Linked DNA regions of Homo sapiens. The protein of the gene in region 1 interacts with the protein of each later gene in a biochemical or structural test. Each region holds a gene or a part of one and is shown on either strand. Other genes may lie near its edges. The genes, in order: KDR, HTRA4, KPNA4 and SHC2.

What was found.
Region 2: of the proteins of KDR (region 1) and HTRA4, one has a biochemical effect on the other in vitro, tested with the Homo sapiens proteins (one study listed by IntAct).
Region 3: the proteins of KDR (region 1) and KPNA4 interact in a test that uses a peptide from one of them, tested with the Homo sapiens proteins (one study listed by BioGRID).
Region 4: the proteins of KDR (region 1) and SHC2 form a complex in vitro, tested with the Homo sapiens proteins (2 studies listed by BioGRID).

The regions. Positions count from the first base shown.
Region 1 is NC_000004.12:55,115,588-55,122,627, forward strand, and holds part of KDR (vascular endothelial growth factor receptor 2 precursor), read right to left. Parts: intron 5,604-7,040; coding exon 5,510-5,603; intron 3,214-5,509; coding exon 3,017-3,213; intron 1-3,016. UniProt on the Homo sapiens protein: Tyrosine-protein kinase that acts as a cell-surface receptor for VEGFA, VEGFC and VEGFD. Plays an essential role in the regulation of angiogenesis, vascular development, vascular permeability, and embryonic hematopoiesis.
Region 2 is NC_000008.11:38,969,225-38,977,242, reverse strand, and holds the start of HTRA4 (serine protease HTRA4 precursor), read right to left. Parts: upstream 3,016-8,018; 5' UTR 2,980-3,015; coding exon 2,514-2,979; intron 2,213-2,513; coding exon 2,113-2,212; intron 709-2,112; coding exon 504-708; intron 1-503. Other genes in the region: PLEKHA2 (pleckstrin homology domain-containing family A member 2), read right to left, coding at 7,460-7,822. UniProt on the Homo sapiens protein: Serine protease.
Region 3 is NC_000003.12:160,494,507-160,499,571, forward strand, and holds the end of KPNA4 (importin subunit alpha-3), read right to left. Parts: 3' UTR 501-5,065; downstream 1-500. UniProt on the Homo sapiens protein: Functions in nuclear protein import as an adapter protein for nuclear receptor KPNB1. Binds specifically and directly to substrates containing either a simple or bipartite NLS motif.
Region 4 is NC_000019.10:430,016-437,055, forward strand, and holds part of SHC2 (SHC-transforming protein 2), read right to left. Parts: intron 6,669-7,040; coding exon 6,615-6,668; intron 6,417-6,614; coding exon 6,365-6,416; intron 6,277-6,364; coding exon 6,150-6,276; intron 4,851-6,149; coding exon 4,694-4,850; intron 733-4,693; coding exon 669-732; intron 1-668. UniProt on the Homo sapiens protein: Signaling adapter that couples activated growth factor receptors to signaling pathway in neurons. Involved in the signal transduction pathways of neurotrophin-activated Trk receptors in cortical neurons.

The DNA.
Region 1 (7,040 bases):
GTGTATGTGTGTGTGTGTGTTTGTGCATGCACATGCATGTGTATATATCTGTGTGTATAAAAATTTTGAAAAAAAACTCCCAATTGAGATTGACTCCTTTCACAAGGTTTATTGACAAGCAGAATATATTTTTATAGATTTCACATTTTAAAAGATTAATCATTATAATTTTTTCAAAATGAAGGATAATATTTACTTTAAAATTTAAAGTTAAATCTATACACTTTACCGACAAGTTTTACTAATATTTAAAATACTCATGTGCTCTCTCTTTAGGTAAATAATGTAAATTCCATGAAAATAAATGAATGGATCCCAAAGGATCTTTAGATTAACAGGAAACAGCTAACACTTTTGAATTTGGTTATTCAAGAGGACCATTCATGTGAGCATTTTAAGATTCTGAAGACTAGGGATATGATTCTTTCTAAAACCATGTTTAATTGTTTTTGCATTTAGTTTAACATTTAGCAGTCATTGATATCTTCAATGACAAACATTTGAAAAGTCACCACTCCAAAGACTGAGAAGAAAACTGAAGAGATTCTGACTGGGTTCTTGGCTCACGCCTGTAATCCCAGCACTTTGGGAGGCTGAGGCAGGTGGATCACTTGAGGTCAGGAGTTTGAGACCAGCCTGACCAACGTGGCAAAACCCCATCTCTACGAAAAATACAAAAAATTAGCCAGGCATGATGGCACGCACCTGTAGTCCCAGCTATTTCAGAGGCTGAGGCAGGAGAATCATTTGAACCGGGGGGCAGAAGTTGCAGTGAGCTGAGATAGCACCACTGCACTTTAGCCTGGGCAACAAGAGCAAAACTCCGTCTCAAAAAAAAAAAAAAAAAAAGATTTCAAGGCCAATCAAACATTACTCATACAATGTTAACATGCTGCTGGAAACCTAGTCCATTCCTCAGAGATAGAGATGATGTGGTGTGGAGTCATGCTTGAAATCTCAGAGAGATAACATTTCACATTGCTATGCCCAACACATCCCATCAAGCATTCTCAGAGTGCTTCATAATAGTCAGTCAAAGTGAAGAAAGAGTTAATTAAACCACAGGGGACAAAGGCAGCTAATTCCCTGCAACAGCAGAAGTTTGATTTCCTTCCCAGCTGGAAAGCACAGAAAAGCAGCCAATCTAGCCCACCACATGCCATAGCCATTATCTTATGAGGCCAGGGCTCACTTCCTGGCTCCATCCATTGCTGAAGAGAATGGGGTCAGAAGACTAGGGAAGTAAGGTGGCGACCAGAGGGGACATTAAACACCTATCCATAGAGAATACTTCAGTGTTTCCTTTCCCATTGTTTAACTTCATGGCCAAAATCTTGGACAGCCCAACTCCTAGAACTTTAAGCTTAGACAGGAAGCAGAATTTAATGGTATACCCAAAGACAGGCAGTGTACCAATAAACAGTGCTAGGGATTGCCACTTCTTAATATTGCCTACCTTTCATCCACATGTTATGAAATATTACATAACTTGCTTACAGAGCAAGCCTTTGGAAGCTAAATTAACCCTTTGACGTAAGACTAAACCTATTTAGTAAATCAATTCTATTTCGGTATCTCAAAAAAAGGAAATAAACAAAAGAAACCCAAACCACCACCCAGCCTCTCAAAATAAAATATTTACTGAAACTCATGAAATGAATTTTCACATGTCTCCAAGTTTCCTGACTTAGGAAGAAGTAAATAATGAGATATGGGGGATGTTCATCTTGTAGTATTTCTAGACAGGCTGAAAGCAGGAAATCCTTGCAATCTTCTGACCGAGCTGCATCTCTCAAGACTGCCAGGTCAAAAGGAGCCAGAAATTCTCCAAGATGTGAGCCTTGTCTCTTTCAAATCTTGTGGAGGGAAGGAGGAGGGCACAGAATTCTATCTTTGACAGTGCTTACTCTGGGCAAAGATATTTCTCAAACATTGTGAATCCAGTGGCATAGGTTATTTTGATGTGGTCTCCACTTTTTCATTGCACTGACCATATTACACTACTGAAATGTAAGCAGAGATATGCAAGTGTGTTTCCCAAAGCTGATGAAATTCTTGCCCTGTAAAAGCTGCTTCTGGGAAAAAAGTCTAAGTCATCTTCACCTGTCTCAAATACTCTGGGATGTAAAAAGGCATATACGTAAATACATAAAATGTCTGTTTATCTTCACTGAAAAGAAAAATATTTGGTACATCCAACCAAACTATGATGCAGCCCTTACATTCCTTAAATTTATATCATAGGGATCTCATTAGTTAAGTTAGGTTTTCACAGAAAAGATAAGATAGTGTAAGATTTTTGAAACACAAAAGAATGCATAACTCATTATAAATGCAGAATATGTGTGACATTTATTTTATACTATATGGATGTTAAGTCAGCCTTCATAATATCAATCCCAAACTGCACATCCTAGAAAGATACAGCATATCATCCAAGATCTCAGACCAAACAAGCAAAGGAAAGAAACATTGTCCTGAAAAGAGTCTGAAGCAATGTCTTTATTTGCACATGAGTATGGGAATTGTTTTTTATGAAATACTAGTAAGAAAAAAAGGTTCCTATGTGCAAAAAACTCCAGAGCCCTTGGCAAAAAATGCTTTCCTATGCATTCTTGGGAAAATCTCCTACTCTGCTGTAGATAACTTATCTCTCCACAGAAATTTCTCCATAATTCACCCCCAAATCTTCCTCGATTTCAAGAATTTTAGGTTTTCTTCTCAAACATAGGAAGACTTTTTATAAGTCTCAATGGCCAACAGTGAACACAGATTTACCTTGGAAACAAAGATCAGACCCAAACTAACTGGGCAAAAAAGAGGTAACACGGCCCAAGCTCCAGAATCAATGAGTCTTATTTCTCAGAGAAAGCCTCAGGAGAGAAGAATTGTGTGTATTCCTCTTGGCAAACAGCCTTTAGAGCAAGCCCTTTGTTGTACTCAATTCTTCTTTGAGCCTATTGTCTTTTATAACTGGTAAAGAGACGTGGGAAATGAATTTTATTTCACCACTTACCTTGAACATAGACATAAATGACCGAGGCCAAGTCAGTTTCCCGGTAGAAGCACTTGTAGGCTCCAGTGTCATTTCCGATCACTTTTGGAATTGTGAGTGTCTTACAGAAGAGGCCATCGCTGCACTCAGTCACCTCCACCCTTTGCTCACTGCCACTCTGATTATTGGGCCAAAGCCAGTCCAAGTCCCTCTGTCCCCTGAAAAATTAATTTCAGGGAGGTATTAATATGAAGTGCCAGACTGTGAGGCTATTTCTAAGAAAAGAGAAAATTTGGTTTTGAAACTTAAATAAACTCTTCAACAGACACAGTCAGTCTTCTACCGGCCAGGCATGGTGGCTCATGCCTATAATCCCAGCACTTTGGGAGGCCAAGGCGGATGGATCACCTGAGGCCAGGAGTTCGAGACCAGGCTGGGCAACATGGTAAAACCCTGTCTCTACTAAAAATACAAAAATGAGCCAGGTGTGGTGGCGCATGCCTGTAATCCCAGCTACTCAGGAGGCTGAGGCATGAGAATTGCTTGAACCCGGGAGGTGGAGGTTGCAGTGAGCCAAAATCACACCACTGCACTTCAGCCTGGGCAAGAGGGCAACCCTGCCTCAAAAAAAAAAAAACAAAGTCTTCTACCAACAAGTCAGATTGACATATGATGAAAAGTTATAAACTCAGCTTCAGAAGTCACTTATAAAGATTCCTGAGTTTTCCATTAATTAATGCATTCTTTCTTTCAACAAATATCTATTAAGCATCTACTATGTGCCAAACTTGTTAAGGACTAGAGAAAGAGCAGTGAACAAATCAGACAAAAATCAATGCCTTTATGGAACCTCAGTCTAACTGGAGAAAACAGGCAATTAAAAAGTAAGGAAAGTTTATTGTATAAAAGATAGTGTTTAGTACTATGGAGAAAAATATAGAAGATACAAAGAAAAGAGTAAAGAATTTTGCAGGAGGTGGTCTTGATAAAGCTAGCCATAGGAACATCATGAAGAGCAGTATTACAGGAGCAAAAACAGCACATGGAAAGGCCCTGGAGCAGGTGCATATCTGGAGTATTAAGGGAACAGCCAGGAAACCAGAGCAGCCAGGTAAGAGTGAGCAAAGGGGAGTAAGAAGTGAGGTTAGGAAGGAAGGAGGTGCAAGTAAGAGTCCCTCAGGACCTTGTAAGGACCTCGCATTAAAACATAGATGGCTTGTACTGCAGCATTTCTCTACAAGGCCCCAAGGAAGATAAGAAGATAGTCAACATCAAGAAGAATGTAACATTATTGGCCCTTCATTCAAAGAACTTAAAATTTCCAGGAAGTTGCAGCTAAATCAATGAAGTTACTTTTAACACACTCCATGGTTTTTTTCAGAACATAAGAAATGTTTATGCAGAGTTTTAAAAAGGGAGCATGGGATCCTTGGGGATTTCAAATAACCTTGTTATCGAGGGTCGGTAAAAGGAAAATCTAATGGGAAATGTGTCTTAAACAAGTAAAGCTAGAGAAACAGCACCTGCTACTGTGTTTTTTCCCAAGGGCTGGGTATTGGTAAGGGGCTAGGGTATTCTTTATACTGCAGTCTAAAATAGATGTATGTCATTCGGTTTAATGCTTAGTATTCAACAAGTATGAAGCAATGGCAATAACCTACCCAAGGTCCTTTGTGGACCCCCAGCACTCTTCCAGGAGGGTAACATCACCTCCACTTGTCACAGTCTCTACCAAAAACACACAGGTCCTAAGAAGGCTCCATGCCTTTCGTGTGTGATCACTATGTTAAACCCAAGGGTCTTCTATCTTTCGTCCTGGGGTAAGGGTTGAAAGGCAAAATTTAAAGGCCTCTTCTTCTTGACAAAGAAGTCTACTTCTCCAGTTATCAAAAATCAATAGCATGACTTCTTGCTAGCAAGTGGGGAAAGATGCATTCCAGAATATCAAGGCAGGGCCCGAAGTCCATTATTTATGTAGATCATGCGCTCAGTAATATTACCCACTAAATATTAAATTGCTATTAAATATTACTGCCTAAGTAATTATAGTAATAAATTTCTTATAAAGCAAAGTTTTTGGAAAGGGATAATAAGTGTTCAAGAATCATACCAAGCATAATAAATATAGTCCCAAATTTTTTCAACTCTATTCCTTAAATGTATGCCCTCAACTTCATTTATTCATTCATATTTATTGAGCGTATGTCTACTATACGCCAGGTGGCTGTACTGGTTATTGGAATGTGGGTGTGGGTGTGTATTTGTGTGCGTGTGTGTGTGTGTGTGTGTATGCATGTTGGCAGAGAATAGTATAAAAACACCAGCAAAATTGTACAGAATTTTTGAGAGAAAATTCTTCTCATTTTCCATTATTACATCAGTTCTTAGAAACCTCACCACTTATGAACAATTACTACAAGCTCTATTATAATTCTGCTCTACTGGAAATTATTTCCACTCAATAAACAATCAGTTACTTAACACAAGAAATCTAGATCTAGAATGAATCCTTACCTGCAAGTAATTTGAAGAGTTGTATTAGCCTTAATTGTAAGTATGTCTTTTTGTATGCTGAGCCTGGGCAGATCAAGAGAAACACTAGGCAAACCTAGAAACAAATTAAATAAATGAATGTAGTTGCCACTGAGTTAGACCTAATAGGAAACACCTTCCATAAACAATGCATACTCTATACTTTAAAAGGCCTCTTCAGCAATTCATTGTATAAAACTGGGAATTTACTTTTCACCATTCTCAGTAAAAGTTCACAAGCTGTGTCATAACAGGAAGAATGGGCAGATGGTCATAAACCAACACAACAGTTCTGCAATTCATGGAGCTAGGGTGGAGTTCCTGTTTTCCTGCATTGCCAACTTCAAGGTCTTACAAAAGGATACGGGACATTGAAACCAAATGAACCTTCATCTGATGATCTCACTCCCTTGGGAAAGGACCCACTGACATTTCTTATAGAACATAGGATGTACACATTTGACTAAATTGCTGATTAACGAATCCCACTTAGACGGATTTTTATATAGTTCATCTACGTACCCTGAAGGGAGTGAGAGAATCTATGACCTTGTCTCATTTTCCTTTATCAATTTTCTAGTGCGCTTCCCCTGGTAACCAAACTGCCACAGCTGAAATAATGGCTCATAAAGACTGTACATTAAAAGCAAGGGAGAGAAACTGAGGAAGAGAAAACATTCCCCAATTCCACACATACATGCATATTAATATACTTTTATGTATGTGTGGAATTTTCCCAATTTTACACATATGTGCAAATTAATATACTTTTCTGTCTACTGTAATTCATTAGCATTACCCTTTTTTTAAAAAGTATATGAATATTTTCGTGAAAAATTTTCCCAGTTTCACACATACATGCAAACTAATGTACTTTTCTCTCTATTGTAATTCATTAGCATTACCCTTTTTTAAAAACGTATATAAATTTTTTTAAGTGCAATGCTAATGAATTACAATTGGGAGATCTGAACTTATTCATCAAAGCCCTGAACTCATCCTGACATCAAGCTTCAGACATAAGAAACTTGTCTTTACCTATAAGGGATAAGAACCAGAAAAGTACCATGGCATAGATTCCTCACCATGGGTCACTCTACAGCAAGATAACTGAATTCTCTGTCAACTAAATGTGAAGAGCTATGAGGTGTTGAAAAAGCATGAGAGAAAGAAAAATTGTCCACTATGCTAGGGTCTTAATAAATATCAAGACCTAGAAAATACCAGCTTTAAAAAAGTAATTGATGTTGGGCAGGCTCCCAAGCTTTCTAAGTCATATCAACTAAGAAAAAATGACTCCCTAGGCCTAAACTGGCATTGACCTTGCTGGGCAAATAAGAGAGTATGAACAAATAGGACGAAGTATGAGACGGAATAAATAGAGAGAGTATAAGTAAATACCCAGTGCAAACATCCAGTGCATTGAATCTGAGGATCCCAATATGAACAAATGCAGGCAAAATGAATAAGTGACTGCACATGTTCTCACACACCACACAGATGTGCAAAATAA
Region 2 (8,018 bases), on another chromosome or scaffold:
AGTTAGAGGCCAAGCGCAGTGGCTCACACCTGTAATCCCAGCACTTTGGGAGGCCGAAGCGGGCGGATCACTTGAGGTCAGGAGTTCGAGACCAGCCTGGCCAACATGGTAAAACCCAGTCTCTACTAAAAGTACAAAAATTAGCCAGGCGTGGTGGCAGGCACCTGTAATCCCAGGTACTCAGGAAGCTGAGGCAGGAGAATCACTTGAACCCAGGAGGCAGAGGTTGCAGTGAGCTGAGATTGAGCCACTGTACTCCAGCCTGGGTGACAGAGGGAGACTGTTTCAAAAAAAAAGAAAGAAAAGAAAGAAACGGTTAGGGATATACAGAAAGGCGTTGAAGCAAATAAATAAAAGAGGGAGTAAAGAACAGAAAGAAACCAGAGAAAAGCATATATTCAACAGAAAAGATGTGGTGTGAGAGTGTAGTGGGGCAGAAAATATCAGCAAATAGATAAAAATCCCCAAATATGTAGACTCTGACTCAGCCCTGAAATACTCACATTTGATTCAATCTTAATCACCGCAAGATCCAATTTAAGGTCAATATCCTTGACAACAGCTTCATAACGGGCCCCATTCTGGAGCACCACCTCAATCCACTGCTGGTTCCTGACAACATGGGCATTGGTAATAATGAGCCCGTCCTCAGACACTATGAACCCAGAGCCACTGTACACAGGAACAAGCCTGCTGCCGTGAAGTAACCTGTCTCCACAAGACAATAGTGTAAACAGAGGGCAAGAAAGTTAGGGGATACAGCCATATAATCTGAGTCATGGGAACCTCACTCTTATTAAACATACCTCCATCATAGTTTTCTTTTCTTTTCTTTTTTCTTTTTTGAGACAGAATCTCGCTCTGTTGCCCAAGCTGGAGTGCAGTGGCGCAATCTCGGCTCACTGCAACCACCTCCCAGGCTCCTGCCTCAGCCTCCCAAGTAGCTGGGATAACAGGCATGCACCACCACGCCTGGCTAATTTTTGTATTTTTAGTGGAGATGGGGTTTCACCATGTTGGCCAGGCTGCTCTCGAACGCCTGACCTCAGGTGATCCACCCGCCTCGGCCTCCCAAAGTGCTGGGATTACAGGCATGAGCCACCGTACCCAGCCTTCCTTCAGTTTTCTCAGACATTTCACTTTTCCCTGGCTATGCGTAAATTTTCTCCATGTATCAGTGGACTTGGCAGGTACAGGGCCCCAGCCATCTCTTGTGAGCATGGTTGAGAGTGGGGTCCAGCTCTCCTTTTCCAGGGACACTGCTTCTTCAGAGCTGGTTAGTGTAGCAGCCCATGGGTTCTCTGCTGCGAAAAGACTGAACCCAATCCTAATACTAGAGGCAAAAGTCAGCCTCTTACCACAGTATCAAGGACCCAGGCAGGAGAGAATCAAAGGGCTCTGATTCTGGCTTAGTTTCCACCGCCAACTGGCCTCGTAACATAGTAACATAGGACAAATTAACCCTGCTCTCTGGGTCTGGATTTCCTTGTATCCAAAGTGGGGGCTGAGCAAGATCACAACCAAAATGCCTACTAAGCTGGATGTGGTGGCTACACCCGTAATCCCAGCACGTCGGGAGGCTAAGGTGGCAGATCGTTTGGGCCCAGGAGTTCGAGACCAGCCTGAGCAATATAACAAGACCTCGTCTCTACAAAAAAATACAAATATTAGCTGGGTATGGTGGCACCTGCCTATAGTCCCAGTTACTCCAGAGGCTGGGTTGGGAGGATTACTTGAGCCCAGCAGATGGAGCTGCAGTGAGCCGTGATCTGTCACTGCATTTCAGCCCTGGCGACAGAGCAAGACCTTGTCTCAAAAAAAGAAAAGAAATTGCCTACTAGCTCTTATATCTGACCTTAAATTTTGTCTGTGGCAGGAGGGGGAAAAAGCACCAGCCACCTAAGTGGGCAGGGGGAGCTGGGATTTAGAAGTCAGCATCCTTGTGCCTCTGCTCTTTGGTTAAATGACCTTGAACAGGTTATTCAACCTCTTTACGTCTCAGTTTCCTCACTGGTTTTTTAGGATTAAATGACGCTTGCGAAGGGTCTGGAGCAGGTAGGCACGCAGAAACCATTAGCTGGGACAGTGGAGGTCTTCCTCCTCCTCCTTTACCTGCCCCACAGCTGCACGTGAACCACCGATGGCGCCACCTTCTCCACCACCGCGGCGATGAAGTTGTAATTCCTCCTGAGCGGGCCTGCGCTTCTGGTCCCTATGAAAAAATACTGGCTCAAGAGTACGCCTCGAGGGAACCAGACCTGCTATCCTAGTTGGAAAAATGTTAAAGGCAAGACAGTGTTCAAAAGGTGCATGGGGAGGGAGAAACCACGTAGCAGCCGGTAAAGAGCCCCTGTTAAGGAGGAAAGGAAATCAGGAACACAGAGGTGTCGAATCCAGGAGGCAAATGACGCAGGAGGACCAGGCGCGAACTGTGCGGTCTCAGTGAGGTCTTGTTCCTTTACGCTCCTCCAGAGTTAGAAAGTGTTCCGAGGGCGCGCGCCCCCGCGGCTCACCTGTATCCCCGCAGTTCCCCCACTGCACAGGCACGGCCGGGACCTTGCCCAGGCGGCGCGCGGCGCGGTTTTCGGCCCGGAGCGCGCACATGCTGGGGTAGGTGCGCCTGTCGCTGCCGCACACGGCCCCTCCCAGCGTCGGGCAACCGCAGGTGCTGGGGAACCCGGGGCGCAGCGGCTGGAGGCACTGCAGCCCCGGGGCGCACGGTTGGCCCTGCGCCCCGCCGCAGACTTCACGCTCGGCCGCGGGGCAGACGCGGCAACAGCGGCACAGGTCGAACACCGGCGTGGTCCCCAGCGCGCAGGTGGGCAGCGCGGGGCAGCGCGTGGGCTGGCAGACCGCGGGGCAGGAGGGCTGGGTATGTAGCTTTTCAGCCCCGGCCCAGAGGACGGGCACCAGGAGCAGCAGCAGCCCCGGCAGGAGGCATCGTCCCAGCCCCGCGGTCCGCAGCTGAGGTCTAATCATCCTGTTCCTTCCTCGCTTCCACTCTTCAGTGACTTTACTCTGGACCTGCAAACCCTCCTAAATGAGAGACACTTTCTCCCGGCCACGGCGCCGCCTCCGCCGGCCCCCAAACTTTAAGGGGCAGAGCCTGGCATACCTCTGCATATACACACCCGTACATCCCCTACCACCCGCCCCCGTCGGCGCCCCGGAGCCAGGTTCTCCCCCAGGCAATGAGGGGAAGGTCTCTAGCCCTACCCGGAGCAGGAACCTACCTCCTGAAATCCCTAAAACCGACAATGAGGGCAGACTGATAAGAAAGCTCACCCACCCATGGTCAGAAGGTCAGTATTAGGAAAACACATGACCATATTTCAGTATTTCACATGGTTTTATTACAAAACAAGCCACAAAACAGTTTTAGAAAATTTTTGCTACATACCAATTAGGAGATCACATAAAATGAGAAGCGTAACAGTTTCCATGCACTCAGCCTAGAGCTTACAGCGAGTGCATTTCACAGCTGAAACATCACTGCTTTAAAACACAGAATCATGCTACCCCTTCATAAGCAGAGGGGGAGGAGGTCAAACAGTATGTTTTTGCCAAACGTTTGCTTTATCTGAACTCTATCTAGTATGAAGGACTGGCTGCCGCAGGCAATAACACAGAGAGGAAAAGGAACAAAGGAAGAAAAGGGTGCTGGCAGACAAGATTTAACAAACCTGTCCACTTCCGACATTTTGAAAGTTTATAAACAAAGCTCACTTGGGGACACTCAATTTCCAAAATGCTGTGACCTCCACATGTTATCTAATTTATACTGAAAACAAACCTACTAAACTCCACTCCTCAACTACTGAACCTGCTATTTATTCATGGGGTCTTTTTAGCCCATATAAGAGTATATTTATATTCAGAAATATAAAAGAAAAAAAATTTGCTTCAAGTAGACTAAGAAGCTGGACCTTAAAACTACTTTCTTTCTCGTGGGAGCTGAGTATTCAACTCAGAAATAGATGTATAACTCCAATATTCTGACCTGACATCAATCTCCATAATGTATACCTCAATACCCTTATGATGTCTCACTTAACACTAAAGGCCAAATTATTTTTACCAACCATCAGCTGACATTGAGTAAGCAAGTCTTTTGAAGATTTCAAAAGTAATAGATGGTGGCCAGGCGTGGTGGCTCACACCTATAATCTGAGTACTTTGGGAGGCTGTGAGGCAGGAAGATCACTTGAGCCCAGGAGGTCCAGGCTGCAGTGAGCCATGATCAGGCCACTGCACTCCAGCCTGGGTGACAGAGTGAAACACTGTTTCTAAAAATAAAAATTAAAGAATAATGGATGGCATTATTCAGCCATGGGGAGGACCACCTGAAATACTGTTACACACAGTGGGTCAAGACCACTTCAAAAGCCTTATGAAAATAGCACAACTCAGGCAAGGCTTTTATTCCACAAAGAAAATGCAGTACATTTTTTAGTTCCTTTAAAAAAAAAAAAACTCAGATTTACTCCAGAGCCTATGCACTTAGTCACTAATCTATACTGCATCCCCAACCTATTTTTTCCATTTGGTTCAATTTTATACATTTAAAACTAACTGCTTTGGTCAAATACGTACCATCTTTGGTTCACATTAAAAGATTATGGTCCAAAACTGGCCAGAAGTTAAGAAATATCAACAAAATAGGAAGTTTGAAATACAATTTAGGAATGGAATGCTTTTAGAGCTTGTTTCATTGAAGATAATAATTTATCTCATATTGAACTACATTAACGATGTTCTGGCTAGGTGCAGTGGCTCACACCTGTAATCCCAACACTTTAGGAGGCCAAGGCAGGAGGATCACTTGGGCCAGGAGTTTGAGAGAGCCTGGGCAACATAGCCAGGCTCTGTAGATAAAAAAAAATTAAAAATTAGCCAGGCGTGGTAGCACAACCCTGTAGTCCTAGCTACTTGGGAAGCTAACATGGGAGGATTGCTTAAGCCCAGAGATTCAAAGTTATGATGAACTATGATCACACCACTGCACTCTAGCCTGGGTAAGAGAGTGAGACCCTGTCTTTTAAAAATTAAAAAAAAAAAATTAAAAACAAGCAATGCTCTAATGTGGAATTCCCAAGTGTTTGCCAATTGACAAGAAGATTTCCATTTGACAGTCTTAGTGTCCTCGTTTCCCTTTATCAGGATAATACCATATGGATTCTATGTATGTTTAATTTGTCACATTCTCAAAAGAGATCTTGCTGAATAAGAAACAAATCAGCTTATTATAATGGCCAATTAATTTAGCAATAGTAACCTATCAGATAATTTTTTTTTTGAGATGGAGTCTTGCTCTGTCGCCCAGGCTGGAGTGCAGTGGCGCGATCTTGGCTCACTGCAAGCTCCGCCTCCCAGGTTCACACCATTCTCCTGCCGCAGCCTCCCAAGTAGCTGGGACTACAGGCGCCTGCCACTGCGCCCGGCTAATTTTTTTTTCGTATTTTTAGTAGAGACGGGGTTTCACCGCGGTCTCGATCTCCTGACCTCGTGATCCGCTCGCCTCGGCCTCCCAAAGTGCTGGGATTACAGGCGTGAGCCACCTTGCCGGCCTTATCAGATAATTTATTTAAAAGAAAAGAGAGAGAGAGAGATAAATGGGTAGATTTTCACAATGTATACACCAAAAGAGGACATCTTTTCCGTGAGTCAGGGAATATTTAAAGAGATATCAAAAGTCCCTATTTTCATGAGTTCCACATCACATATTTTGTGCTTTCTTTGAATAGCCAAAAAATTTTCTTGGGGAAAATACGAGAGTAAAACCAGAGCTAAGGAGCTATAAGAATTTGGAATGGCTTCTTGAAATCATGCCGCTCCAAGTATGTCATAACCTCGATCACTCAAAAATACATAACTCCCAAACCAAGAATTTCTGAGGGCAAAAGCACACCAGCGTGTATAGGAAAGGCAGGGGAAGGGATGGAAGGGAGAGAAAGAGGGAACAATGTAGATTTCCTGTTTTATACCAGGAAAACTAGGCCAAACTCAATTTAAATGAATAGCTCCAAAGCAGTGCAGTCAGAAAAAGTTCTCAGTGTGACATAGACTTCAGGGAAACAACACGTCCTGAAAGAAACATGATTCCCCTCAAGCCACAAAGGATTTTCTCATCAAGTGTTTTCACCTCTGCATTAGATTTGGACACAAGAAGAGGAGAGCATTTACTCAGGTAAAAATAGTTCTCTTAGTCTCTTCCTCTAGTTACTAATTTTTAATTTAAAAATACAATTAACTGATCTAGCTGATAAAAGTCACAGACAGAAATAAGCTAAGTTCTCTCTTCCTTTAGGGAACGCTGGTGGCAATTCACCATATAAACTGGATGGAAGAATTCTCCCAGGGACACTGGAAATAGCATCTTCTTATCAAATGGAAGGAGGTACGCCCTAAAATTTGGGTGGGACACTCAATTTTCTTTTATATTTTGAGACGGAGTTTCACTCTTGTTGCCCTGACTGGAGTGCAATGGCGCGATCTTGGCTCACTGCAACCTCCACCTCCTGGGTTCAAGTGAATCTCCTGCCTCAGCCTCTGAGTAGCTGGGATTACAGGCCTGCACCACCACGCCCGGCTAATTTTGCATATTTTTTAGTAGAGGCGGGGTTTCACCATGTTGGCCAGGCTGATCTCGAACTCCTGACCTCAGGTGATCCACCCGCCTCAGCCTCCCAAACTACTGGCATTACAGGCGTGAGCCACCATGCCCGCTCAAAACTCAATTTTCTAGGCTCTTTTATCTGAGGAATCTCTGGCCAGCAACTCATAACATCTAAATCAATGTTTCTATGCCAAGCTTCTATTTCATTAAAAATATATATCTCTCTCTAGATTCTTTTTGTATCTCTTCATGTTAAGTGCATGGAAATTCATCCTATTACAGGGTCTGATCATGCAAGCACACAAGGCTTCATTCAAAGGGCAACAGCAAGAAGAAAGAGAAAGCAAGTTTGCAAGGGTACAAAACACATAGCGCTTAAAATTAGACTAATGCTGGCCCATTCCAAAAGAGCTGCGAGGCACCTGGACTGAAAACAAAATGAAAAAACTAAAACAAGGACAAGGAAATAAAACTTGGTCATTGGTGAAACTGGACTTCCAGCCCCCTCTGGAGAGGAGCTGCTAAAACAATCCCTCTCCAGGAAGACCTCAGAATAGTTAGAATAGAATAGGTAGCTTCCTCTCCACTGAGTATGCCTACAGTTCTAACCTAGTGACTTCCCCAAATTAAATACACTGCGTTGATATTACACACACACACACACACACACACACACACACACACAGCCCAGCTGGATGGGCCCCTCCCTCCCAAAGAGCATCCACAGGAATATGAGTGACATAAAGGCCTCTGACTACCCTCCAACAAGGTAGAGAAACTGAGTCACAGCCTCCTTCTCTCAAGTCCTCCCTCCCTCCCTCCCTCCCATGGCACTGTGCTCCATCACACATCAGAGGTCCGTATGTTTTCATCATCAAGGTTGAACATAAACGGCTTCTCCTTGGGGTGCTGGGGCTCCGATCTGTGCCTTATCCGGGAGCTGGGCAGCACCCCAGGAGCGCTGCCCTCCCCAGGACGAGGCGTGAACAAGGAGTCCTCTGAAGTGTCTCCAGGTGGAAGCAGCTTCTCCCCAGCCTGGGGGACAGGTGTCCAGGGCTGCCAGGAGGAGGCCACAGAGGGGGCTTTGCAGAGGGCTTTCTTTTCCTCCAAAGGTGGCCGCCCCCTGCACAGGATAGAGTTGGGCCCACTTGAAAGGCTGGAGCTTCCAGGTCGGGTCAAAGAAATGGATCTAGAAAAGGACGTTTCCTATAAAAATAAAAGGAAGAAAAAGACAAAAGAAAGTTAGGGCTTTTCAGACAATGTTTATCACAGAGTCCCAGAAAGAGTACCCAACCAGGATCACCACCTCATAAGTCCAAGGATGCTTGCCTACAAAAATGAAATACAGTCAAAAGGATTCACTCCAAATGTGTCAACGTCAGCCTGGCAGTGAAACTTGCAG
Region 3 (5,065 bases), on another chromosome or scaffold:
GAAACTGAAGCACATAGGGATAAAATAACTTCACATACATAAATAAACCAAAGCATTCTAATAATTTCATACTATAGCTGACTGACCAAAACAGCAATCACTTAACTTTGTGGTTTGGATATTTCCTTGTAAAATATCTTATTATAAGTTATTTCAATAAATCATCCATACAGTATTTCCAAAATATAAACTGTATCAATAGTGTTAGACAATATTAGGTTACCTCTGCTTCATAATATATATAACTGGTATCTGAAAACCACACAAGGATCCATTTCAATACCCTTATGGATGTCAGATATCCAGACCAGACACTGGGCAAAATATCAAAAGTGAGGAAAAGGAAATAAGGAAATGGGCATTCATCTGGCAAGCTATGAAGTATCTTCCCTTTCTATCGAAGGCTTTCTAAAACTCAGATGCAATGAGACAAATTTAAAAACTGTAGATTGAAGGCTTTTAGAGGTAGTCACTACAATCAGTTCATCTGAGAAATTGCATCATTATCACAAGCATTTATTGAGTACCCATAGAACTCATGGTACCTTCACGGTGTTTACAGAACTTTGCTTATATGCCGACCTTGCCCTTAAGGAGCTTACAATCTAGTGGAAAGAAAGACGGAGAAACTCAGATGTGATAGAGCAATGAGTGAACAGATACTATAGACTGAAAAATAACCATAAATGTAAAACACATACTGAAAAATGAGGGTTAATGGGGATGGCAAGGATGATAGGTAGGCCTGGATATACTCCTGACTTCTTGAAGGAGTAAATATCTAGAATATTCAAGGACGTAAAGTGCGGTTGAGAAAGCCAGGATGCAAACAAACATTTCCTATCTGCTGTGTATTTTCTTGCTCCCTGCAGCTGAGAATTGCAAAAAGAAAACAGGGATAGAGATAATGGGTAAAAACTTTTTAGTATTCTTTTAGTACTTCTGTTTCTGAATTAGACCGAACAGTCACCATGTAGGTAACTTAGCTATCCTAGATCATCCTAAACTGGTTAAAAGGAAGATTTTAAAAACTAGCTTGTCTATATGAGTTCTATAAACATATGTAATTTTACCTTAACTAAAAGGTTAGGATGACTAGGACTGCCACTATGCTAAAGACCACTCAACTGAATATAATACTGACATGGCAGAAGTGCGAGTTTTATCAGTGATACACATTGTGTACTGCATTGGGGGCTTACTAGATGTGTGGCGGAATATACCCATTTATGAAGGCAGCACATCGGCAAGTAAAAATGTAAGTGAAGGTAGGAAATACCTAGAATACATGATGTTTTATGCAGCTGAACAGGACAACCCTGAAAAGACAAGAATTATGGTAATACCAAAGTGACTAAGGTTGTCTTGATTCCCCGCCCCCACCACAATTATGAATCAAAAGATGGAGTCTTTTTTTTTTTTTTTTTAAGGTAAATACCCTCTTTAGCTGAGTCCAAGACTTTGGATATTAGATTACTGTACCTAAAAAGAGTAAAATGGTGGCCAGGCGGTGGCTCACGCCTGCAATCCCAGCACTTTGGGAGGCCAAGGAGGGTGGATCATCTGAGGTCAGGAGTTCGAGACCAGCCTGGCCAACGTGGTGAAACCCCATCTCTACTAAAAATACAAAAATTAGCCGGGCGTGGTGGTGCACGCTTGTGGTCCCAGCTACTCAGGAGGCTGAGGCAGGAGAATCGCTTGAACCTAGGAGGTGGAGGTTGCAGTGAGCCAAGATGGCACCACTGCATTCCTGCCTGGGCAACAAGAAAGAGTAAAATGGTAACTATGCACAAAGGATGGGGGAAAGGTGGCTCACAGGGCTTAAACATCAGAGGAATGGAGAGGACAGGACAGTGAGGGAATTATCTGGAAGGTAGGTAACTGGATTGAGAACCACAAAAAGCATGTAGATTTAAGCAGATTACGAGTCATTTTAAACAGCTGTTTCAAAGTAAGAGTAAAAACAGGCTGGAGAAAATCTTGGGTAATATTAGAGTAACATAGTCTAGGATAGGAATCCATCAGTTATGGAGATCAGAGGTAAGATATAGTCAGGGAAATTAGGATTCATGCTTGAAGAGTAATAGAAAAACCTAAGTGAAACAGGTTATTGGAATTTTCTTTATGAAGAATAAAAGTGGAAGAACTGATAGTCTGGAAAGGTGAAGTAATCTGGAGTAGGCAGCTACAAAAGGTATAAAATTTGTGGAGAAGGCAAAAATTGGGGCAGAAAATATAAATAACAAGGGAGTACTGCAGTCCTCTGGTGGGAGGTAGATCATAAAGAATCTGTAGAACCATTTACTTTTCCTCACAGTCAACTGCTCTTACACCCAGAGCAGTAGCTGTCAAGTCAATTTTATTGAAAATACACTGGACTTGGACATCCTGAGTCAAACTGCCATCACCTAAAGGGCCTGGATTTAAAAGGAATTTTCAAGATTATTGTTAACTTCTGGGTTAAGTGTTTAGGGAAAAAAATGTTAAATCTACTTTTCTTATACATGATTGGTGTGCTTAGTTTTTTATCAATTTGACACTACAGTCCAAATTTGCTTCTGATCACACTAGAATAGTTTTACCAATGTTCATTATTTTTCAACTTCCTTTATTAAGAATTAAGGCTGGTTGGGCGCAGTGGCTCACGCCTGTAATCCCAGCACTTTGGGAAGCCGAGGTGGGCAGATCATTTGCGGTCAGGATTCCAATACCAGCCTGGCCAATACGGTGAAACCCCATTTCTACTAAAAATACAAAAATTAGCCAGGCGTGGTAGCGTACTCCTGTAATCCCAGCTACTCAGGAGGCTGAGGCAGAATTGCTTGAACCCTTGAGGCAGAGGTTGCAGTGAGCCGAGATTGCGCCACTACACTCCAGCCTGGGCCACAGAGCGAGACTGTGTCTCAAAAAAATAAAAATAGAAGACTGCACTAATGCCACCAACGTGCATATTGATTTGAAGGCATCTTGCAGCAACTTTTAAAAATTATTGTACATATATATTTAAAAGCATACTTTATTAATGTGCTTATTAAAAAGTTTAGGGAAAACTTTAAGTGTTCAAAATGTCAAGTTTGTTAGGCATCAGTTTGTTAGTGTTTGGGAGTATTGCCTCAGATATCTGGGCAAAATTTTTTCCTCCCATAATATTAAATTATTGGCTGACAGTTAATGAATTTTGCCAATAAGTAAAATAATCAAGAAGTTACAAAAAGGATAAGATACTCAGCTATCTTGGCCTTCAAAACGCCAATGGTGGATTCTAACTGAAATTTTATATATAAATGGTAGATAATCCACCAAACCCGAGGAGTTAACAATTAAAGTTGGCCTATTTATAGTTCACTTTAATAGCTACAATGGAAGATTCAATTTTGGAAACTCAAAAAGGTCAACTAATTTCAAAACTCTTAGGCAAGCTTCTATAACAATGTTACCCATTCCTTAGTAAACAAAAAAAATATCCAAAAAGCTACATTCACATTTTTTTGCATTGGTTCACAAATTTAAATGAATTTAGATTACCTTTAGAATAGTAATTAGAAGCCCTGGGCAGTATGGGAGTTGAGATGTGGGCTTTATTTGGCCCTTAGTAGCTGTGTGACCTTGGGCAAGTCACCTCAACAACTCATCATCTAAAGGGAAGGGTTGGGACAGACTGTAATTCATGGACTCTTATGAATCCCCTAAAACTGTATGAAAAACTACCATGTATATACACTTTTTGGGGAAGCTGGTCCAGTTTTCATTAGGTTCTCAGAGGCAACCTTGATCCCCAAATAAGCTTGCTATGATAACTATATAAGGCTATCACTTGTAAATTGTTCCAGTTCTAAATAGTTGAGTCCTTGTCATAGGAAGAACTCTTAAGATGGCTCCCAAGATTCCCTGGTATACATACTCCATATAACCCCCTCCCTTGACTGTGAACAGGATCTTTGAATATGATGCGTATCACCCCTGTGATTGGACTACAATGCAGGGCAAAGGTGAAGGGATTTTGCAGGGGTAATGAAGGTACCTCATCAGTTTGGCTTTGGGTTAATCAAAAGGGAGATCACCCTGGTGGGTAGGTGGCCTGATCTAATCAGGTGAGACCTTTAAAAAAGCGCTTAAGGCCTTCCCTGAGATCAGAGATTCTCTTGCTGGCCTTGAAGAAGTTCCCATGATTTCTTCAGTTGCTAGGCAATGGATTTTGCCATATGTGCATAAAAGAGGACCCCCTAGCTTCAGATAAGACTGCAGCTCTGGCTGACACCTTTATTGCAGCCTTGTGAGACCCTGAGCAGAAAACCTAACTACACTCTTGACCTACAGAAATTGTGAAATAATGTATGTTGTGTTTTAAGACACTAAATTTATGGTAATTATACCAAAATTACACAGCAGTTATTCTCTAAATTCAAAATTTAGCTTAATCTCTGTAACTTTTTCCTTGAGGAAACTGAGGCAATGGAGAATCCAAAAAGGGTGCCCCCATAAATTACTGTTACAATAAACCCAGTCATTTTACAATGCAGTTATACCTTTAAAGAAACAAACAACTCCTCACCCTATGAAGTGCTGCTGAGGTAAGCCTAAACTAAATGATACACTCCCTCTCCCCAAAATTATTCTAGATCCATTTTTAATGATTCATAGATAGCTCTAATTATAGAAATGCTCCAGGTTTGGTCCAGAGCAATGTGGACCAATGGAAAGTATTATTTCCACCATAACACACAATTACTGAAGTCTTTGAAAATTACAAAGGAAATATATTTAAAGATAGATTTTAGACTAGGGCGTCTCACACACCCCTAATATAACATTCTTATTTTTACAGCACTTGAGGTGGTCTCAATGTTCAAAAAGACAGTTTAAGACATGAAACGTTAAGAACGTTTAGCTTATTAGGCATATTATTCTATGCCCCCATCCCCATCAGAAATAAGCCTGTGTTAAAAATGAAACAATTTCCTAGATCACTGGAGAATTAAAAAAAAAAAAAAAGTGTTTAACCAGGTAACCGTGATGAACTGTCAACTGTACTGAATCAATTTCAGAGACAGAAAAGCCCTTCCCA
Region 4 (7,040 bases), on another chromosome or scaffold:
GATGACGCAGTACCTATACCCCAACGTGCACGGAAACCTAATACCGTGTGGATGACGCAGTACCTATATCCCAACGTGCACGGAAACCTAATACCGTGTGGATGACGCAGTACCTATATCCCAACATGCACGGAAACCTGATACCGTGTGGATGACGCAGTACCTATACCCCAACGTGCACAGAAACCTAATACCGTGTGGATGACGCAGTATGTATATCCAACGTGCACGGAAACCTAATACCGTGTGGATGACGCAGTACCTATACCCCAACGTGCACAGAAACCTAATACCGTGTGGATGACGCGGCACCTATATCTCAACATGCACAGAGACCTAATACCGTGTGGAAGACGCAGTACCTATATCCAACATGCATGGACACCTAATACCATGTGGATGACACAGTACCTATACCCAACATGCACGGAAACCTAATACCGTGTGGATAATGTAGTACTTATACCCAACATGCAAGGAATCTAGTGTGTGCAGGAAAAACAGACACTGATGATGAAAATCTCAGCAGAGTGTTAGGAGCAAGACGATCTCATAGATTAATGTGAAATAAGCAGAGAGGAGAAAGACTGAGGGGGAGCCAGCACAGGACAGGGCTGAGGAGCCCCAGAATCCTCGTGGGTACCCCTTGCAGCCCCAGCCCATCCTACCTGTACCGGTGGACCCCACGTCCCATGGCAGGCTGCAGGCATCTCTTAGAGAAGGAGATGGGCCCTGGAAACAGAGCAGTGAGAGGTTCCCCGGTGTGTGCAAGCCCCTCTTCCTGGCTCTGGACCCCCAGTCTCCCCGCCCGGCCCTCTTAGATGGCTGGAGACTTAGGGGTGGGGAGCACAGCCCTGGCCCTCCCATTGCTCTCTCACTCTGTAACTAGGCCCCCTGGGTCTGCCGCCCACCTCTGCCGTGGCCTTCCCCGCCTTCTCTCCACCTCGGAAGGTGGTCAGCACATCCTGCCACCTTGCAATGGCTGTTCCCCCTGCCTGGATAACCTTCCCCGCTCTGCTCTCCCAGGCAGCTCCTATTCACCAGTCAGGGCTCTACCCAAATGCCGCTTCCTCAGGGAAGGCCTCCGGACCGCCCTACAGAGTGTATGTCCCCATGGACATCCTCACTGCCTCTCTGGTGGACTTACCAAGGCCCTGATTAAATCATTGCCGTATTTATTTAGTGTCTGAGGGTAGAAGTCATGTCTGAAATGCCACCTCGTCTAATGTGTCCAGAGGAGGCCGGGCAGATAGATGGCGCTTCATCGTGAGTGAGATCGTGAGTGAGAGTTAGAGGAGGCCGGGCAGATAGATGGCGCTTCATCGTGAGTGAGATCGTGAGTGAGAGATAGAGGAGGCCAGGCAGATAGATGGCACTTCATCGTGAGTGAGATCGTGAGTGAGAGTTAGAGGAGGCCGGGCAGATGGCGCTTCATCGTGAGTGAGATCGTGAGTGAGAGATAGAGGAGGCCGGGCAGATGGCGCTTCATCGTGAGTGAGATCGTGAGTGAGAGATAGAGGAGGCCGGGCAGATGGCGCTTCATCGTGAGTGAGATCGTGAGTGAGAGATAGAGGAGGCCGGGCAGATAGATGGCGCTTCATCGTGAGTGAGATCGTGAGTGAGAGATAGAGGAGGCGGGGCAGATAGATGGCGCTTCATCGTGAGTGAGATCGTGAGTGAGAGATAGAGGAGGCCGGGCAGATAGATAGCGCTTCATCGTGAGTGAGATCGTGAGTGAGAGTTAGAGGAGGCCGGGCAGATAGATGGCGCTTCATCGTGAGTGAGATCGTGAGTGAGAGTTAGAGGAGGCCGGGCAGATAGATGGCGCTTCATCGTGAGTGAGATCGTGAGTGAGAGTTAGAGGAGGCCGGGCAGATGGCGCTTCATCGTGAGTGAGATCGTGAGTGAGAGATAGAGGAGGCCAGGCAGATAGATGGCGCTTCATCGTGAGTGAGATCGTGAGTGAGAGATAGAGGAGGCGGGGCAGATAGATGGCGCTTCATCGTGAGTGAGATCGTGAGTGAGAGATAGAGGAGGCCGGGCAGATAGATGGCGCTTCATCGTGAGTGAGATCGTGAGTGAGAGATAGAGGAGGCCGGGCAGATAGATGGCGCTTCATCGTGAGTGAGATCGTGAGTGAGAGATAGAGGAGGCCGGGCAGATACATGGCGCTTCATCGTGAGTGAGATCGTGAGTGAGAGTTAGAGGAGGCCGGGCAGATAGATGGCGCTTCATCGTGAGTGAGATCGTGAGTGAGAGTTAGAGGAGGCCGGGCAGATAGATGGCGCTTCATCGTGAGTGAGATCGTGAGTGAGAGATAGAGGAGGCGGGGCAGATAGATGGCGCTTCATCGTGAGTGAGATCGTGAGTGAGAGTTAGAGGAGGCCGGGCAGATAGATGGCGCTTCATCGTGAGTGAGATCGTGAGTGAGAGATAGAGGAGGCCGGGCAGATAGATGGCGCTTCATCGTGAGTGAGATCGTGAGTGAGAGATAGAGGAGGCCGGGCAGATAGATGGCGCTTCATCGTGAGTGAGATCGTGAGTGAGAGATAGAGGAGGCCGGGCAGATAGATGGCGCTTCATCGTGAGTGAGATCGTGAGTGAGAGATAGAGGAGGCCGGGCAGATAGATGGCGCTTCATCGTGAGTGAGATCGTGAGTGAGAGATAGAGGAGGCCGGGCAGATAGATGGCGCTTCATCGTGAGTGAGATCGTGAGTGAGAGATAGAGGAGGCCGGGCAGATAGATGGCGCTTCATCGTGAGTGAGATCGTGAGTGAGAGATAGAGGAGGCCGGGCAGATAGATGGCGCTTCATCGTGAGTGAGATCGTGAGTGAGAGTTAGAGGAGGCCGGGCAGATAGATGGCGCTTCATCGTGAGTGAGATCGTGAGTGAGAGTTAGAGGAGGCCGGGCAGATGGCGCTTCATCGTGAGTGAGATCGTGAGTGAGAGATAGAGGAGGCCGGGCAGATAGATGGCGCTTCATCGTGAGTGAGATCGTGAGTGAGAGATAGAGGAGGCCAGGCAGATAGATGGCGCTTCATCGTGAGTGAGATCGTGAGTGAGAGATAGAGGAGGCGGGGCAGATAGATGGCGCTTCATCGTGAGTGAGATCGTGAGTGAGAGATAGAGGAGGCCGGGCAGATAGATGGCGCTTCATCGTGAGTGAGATCGTGAGTGAGAGATAGAGGAGGCAGGGCAGATAGATGGCGCTTCATCGTGAGTGAGATCGTGAGTGAGAGTTAGAGGAGGCCGGGCAGATAGATGGCGCTTCATCGTGAGTGAGATCGTGAGTGAGAGATAGAGGAGGCGGGGCAGATAGATGGCGCTTCATCGTGAGTGAGATCGTGAGTGAGAGTTAGAGGAGGCCGGGCAGATAGATGGCGCTTCATCGTGAGTGAGATCGTGAGTGAGAGTTAGAGGAGGCCGGGCAGATGGCGCTTCATCGTGAGTGAGATCGTGAGTGAGAGATAGAGGAGGCCGGGCAGATAGATGGCGCTTCATCGTGAGTGAGATCGTGAGTGAGAGTTAGAGGAGGCCGGGCAGATGGCGCTTCATCGTGAGTGAGATAGTGAGTGAGAGATAGAGGAGGCCGGGCAGATAGATGGCGCTTCATCGTGAGTGAGATAGTGAGTGAGAGATAGAGGAGGCCGGGCAGATAGATGGCGCTTCATCGTGAGTGAGATCGTGAGTGAGAGTTAGAGGAGGCCGGGCAGATAGATGGCGCTTCATCGTGAGTGAGATCGTGAGTGAGAGTTAGAGGAGGCCGGGCAGATAGATGGCGCTTCATCGTGAGTGAGATCGTGAGTGAGAGTTAGAGGAGGCGGGGCAGATAGATGGCGCTTCATCGTGAGTGAGATCGTGAGTGAGAGATAGAGGAGGCGGGGCAGATAGATGGCGCTTCATCGTGAGTGAGATCGTGAGTGAGAGATAGAGGAGGCCGGGCAGATAGATGGCGCTTCATCGTGAGTGAGATCGTGAGTGAGAGATAGAGGAGGCCGGGCAGATAGATGGCGCTTCATCGTGAGTGAGATCGTGAGTGAGAGTTAGAGGAGGCCGGGCAGATAGATGGCGCTTCATCGTGAGTGAGATCGTGAGTGAGAGTTAGAGGAGGCCGGGCAGATGGCGCTTCATCGTGAGTGAGATAGTGAGTGAGAGATAGAGGAGGCCGGGCAGATACACGGCGCCCCATTGTGAGCCTGTGATTGAGTGAGTGAGTGAGATCCTGAGTGAGATCATGAGTGAGTGAGATCATGAGTGAGATCATGAGTGAGTGAGATCATGAGTGAGTGAGATCGTGACTGAGATCATGAGTCTGTGAGTGAGATCATGAGTGAGTGAGATCATGAGATCGTGAGTGAGATGATGAGTCTGAGTGAGATCGTGAGTCTGTGAGTGAGATAGTGAGTGAGACTGAGTGAGATCATGAGTCTGTGAGATAGTGAGCAAGTGAGTGAGATCGTGAGTCTGTGAGTGAGTGAAATCATGAGTGAGATCGTGAGCCTGTGAGATTGTGAGTGAGATTGTGAGTCTGTGAGTAAGTGAAATCATGAGTGAGTGAGTGAGTGAGTCTGAGTGAGAGACCCTCCTCTAGGATCGAGGAGAACAGGAGCAGAAAGAAGAGCTGGAGGTAGGTCCAGGGAACCAGCAGCTGGGGCATCCCTGTCCCCATCCCCCCGAGGGCAGAGGCTGACCTGGTCGAGGGCCGTGAGGGCGCAGGGCTGTGTCAGGGCCAGCCTGGAGTCCACTAGCCCGCCCAGCGGCGGCTCCTTCCCCGGGATGCTGTTGTAGTAATTGTGCTCCAAAGAGTCCTCCTCGTCCCCCCAGGCCGACTCCTCCGGCCCTGCCAGCCTGGGGGACAGACAACAACGGCCATGGCACAGGCAGGGCCCAAGGGGGCTAAAGCCTTACGGCTTGAGCTTCTGGGGGAGCAGGAAATATCTGAGTTCGAATCCCAGCCCCCCACCTGTCACTGAGGGTTCCTACCGGGAAACGCTTCTAGAGCCAGTGACCAGGCCCACTACTTCCTCATCTATAAAATGGAATGTTGCACACATTTCCGAGCTGTAGCACAAAAGGCAGGTCGTTGGCAAACCCAGTCTCCACTCCTTTCTGCCCACCTCCGGCCCCGCCCGGCAGCAGAGGGCATGAGCCAAGTTTATACCCAGAACCAGGACATCACCGGTCAGGGTGGCAACTCTCTGGGATCAAAGCGCCCCCGCCCTCTGGCCCCGATGGCACTGGCAGGAATTGATCCTGCAGGTGCTCCTCAGCAAGCACGGCCCCGAGAGCCAGAGGGGTGCACCCCACCTGGCCCACAGTCGCTGCTGGGATAAATTATGAAGCAGCCTACGGAAGGCAGAGGCAGCTCTGGAGGCAGGCGAGGAGCCCGTCTCAGCTTCGGAGCGTGCTGAGCAACGTGCATCAAGCACGCTGTCCCCGTGCACAAAGGGGTGAGTGTGAGCAGGCGTGCGATGCCGCCTCCCTCGTGACCAGCAGGCTGGGAGCTCATGCACCTGCACCTGCCCTCCCACCATTGGAGGAAGCTGACTTTCTAATGATGAATAGAGACTTAAATAGCTCCTTCTCCAAGGCCAGCTGGCAAACCCCAGCCCAGGGCCAAATCCAGCTCACCGCCTAGATCTGTGTGGCCCACGAGCTAAGAATGGGCTTTCAATCTTTAAATTATCAAAGTTAAGTGTTTGAGAAAACATCTAGAGAATCATATTTTGCAACACGTGGCATTCACACTTCAATGTCTATAAAAAACGTGTTACCAGCACACAGACACGTCCCCCCCTTTACACATGTTCTGCGGTGAGACGGAGGCCGTTTTCTGCCCATTGCGGGAGCCGGCCGCGCGTCTGGAGGAGGGATATTGGTTGTAGCAGCAGGGCTGACAGCCTCAGGCACACCGGGGAGTCAGCTTGCTTAGTCCTCCCCAATCCTGGGGGGCAGGCGGGGATGCGTTTACTCGGGTGTTAACAGCCGAGGAAACAGGATCCTCTGGCTGAGCCATATTCTCACGGGACAGGGAGGGAGGGACAAGGGCAGGACGGAGGCTGAGGCCTGCAGGAGGTGGAGCAGGCTCTGCACCTGGGCAGGTCACTGGGGGTGTCCCCAGGGCACGGGGGAGGCAGCTCTGGTTACCTTTCTGGGGGCAGCGCCACCTTGGGCGGGCTGTGCAGGTACTGCTTGAAGCGCAGCTCGAAAGCTTGGCCCACGGTGCTGATGATGCTCTGTGCCAGGCCCTCACAGCACTCCAGGATGTGGCAGGCTGCGGGCACGTTGGTCATGCAGCCTCCGAGCCACACGGCCGTGCCCCCCAGCCACAGGACCCCCACCGGCCTCCCCGGGGGCCTCACCTCTCTGGTTGATGGGGTCCTTGGCGACGTAGGCCACGTAATCCGTCATGTCCTGGGGGCGGGGAGGGGCCAGCTGGACCTGCCTGGGCCCCCCACCGGGATTCCCAGCTGCCCACCCCAGCAATGCAGAGAGATGGGGCAGTGGATGTGGGCACAGGGTACGTTAGGCGGGCTCTGGGGAAGGATGAGAGGGTCTCGCGGCCGGAGGGGGGCGGCAGGGCTGCAGGTCCACCCCCATCCCTGGCCTCACCGTGTCTCCGCCTGACGCGAAGGAGATGGACGGCATGTGGTGGTTGGCGATGACCTGTGGCGGCAGGAGGCACACGCGGTCATGGGGGCCCCGCTTCGAGGGCAGGGGGCCCGGCAGATGGACCAGGACCACAGCGAAGAGTGGGGCAGGGGCAGGGATGTGGGGATGGAGACGTCTCCTGGACAGGCACCCACTGCAGCCGGGTCCTGGGTCAGCCTGGACGACCGAGGCTGGGATGTGGAGTCCCCAGCAAGGAAGGGACTAGGGCCCTAAGGGATGTGTGGGGTCCGCAGGAGGTCACACGGGAATGTGTGTGAGAGGACAAACCTCCCCCACTGTAACACTTCACACATGTACCTGCCCAGACGCTCACACACACACACCCCAAGCCCCACACACATGCACACACACACACACACCCGAAGC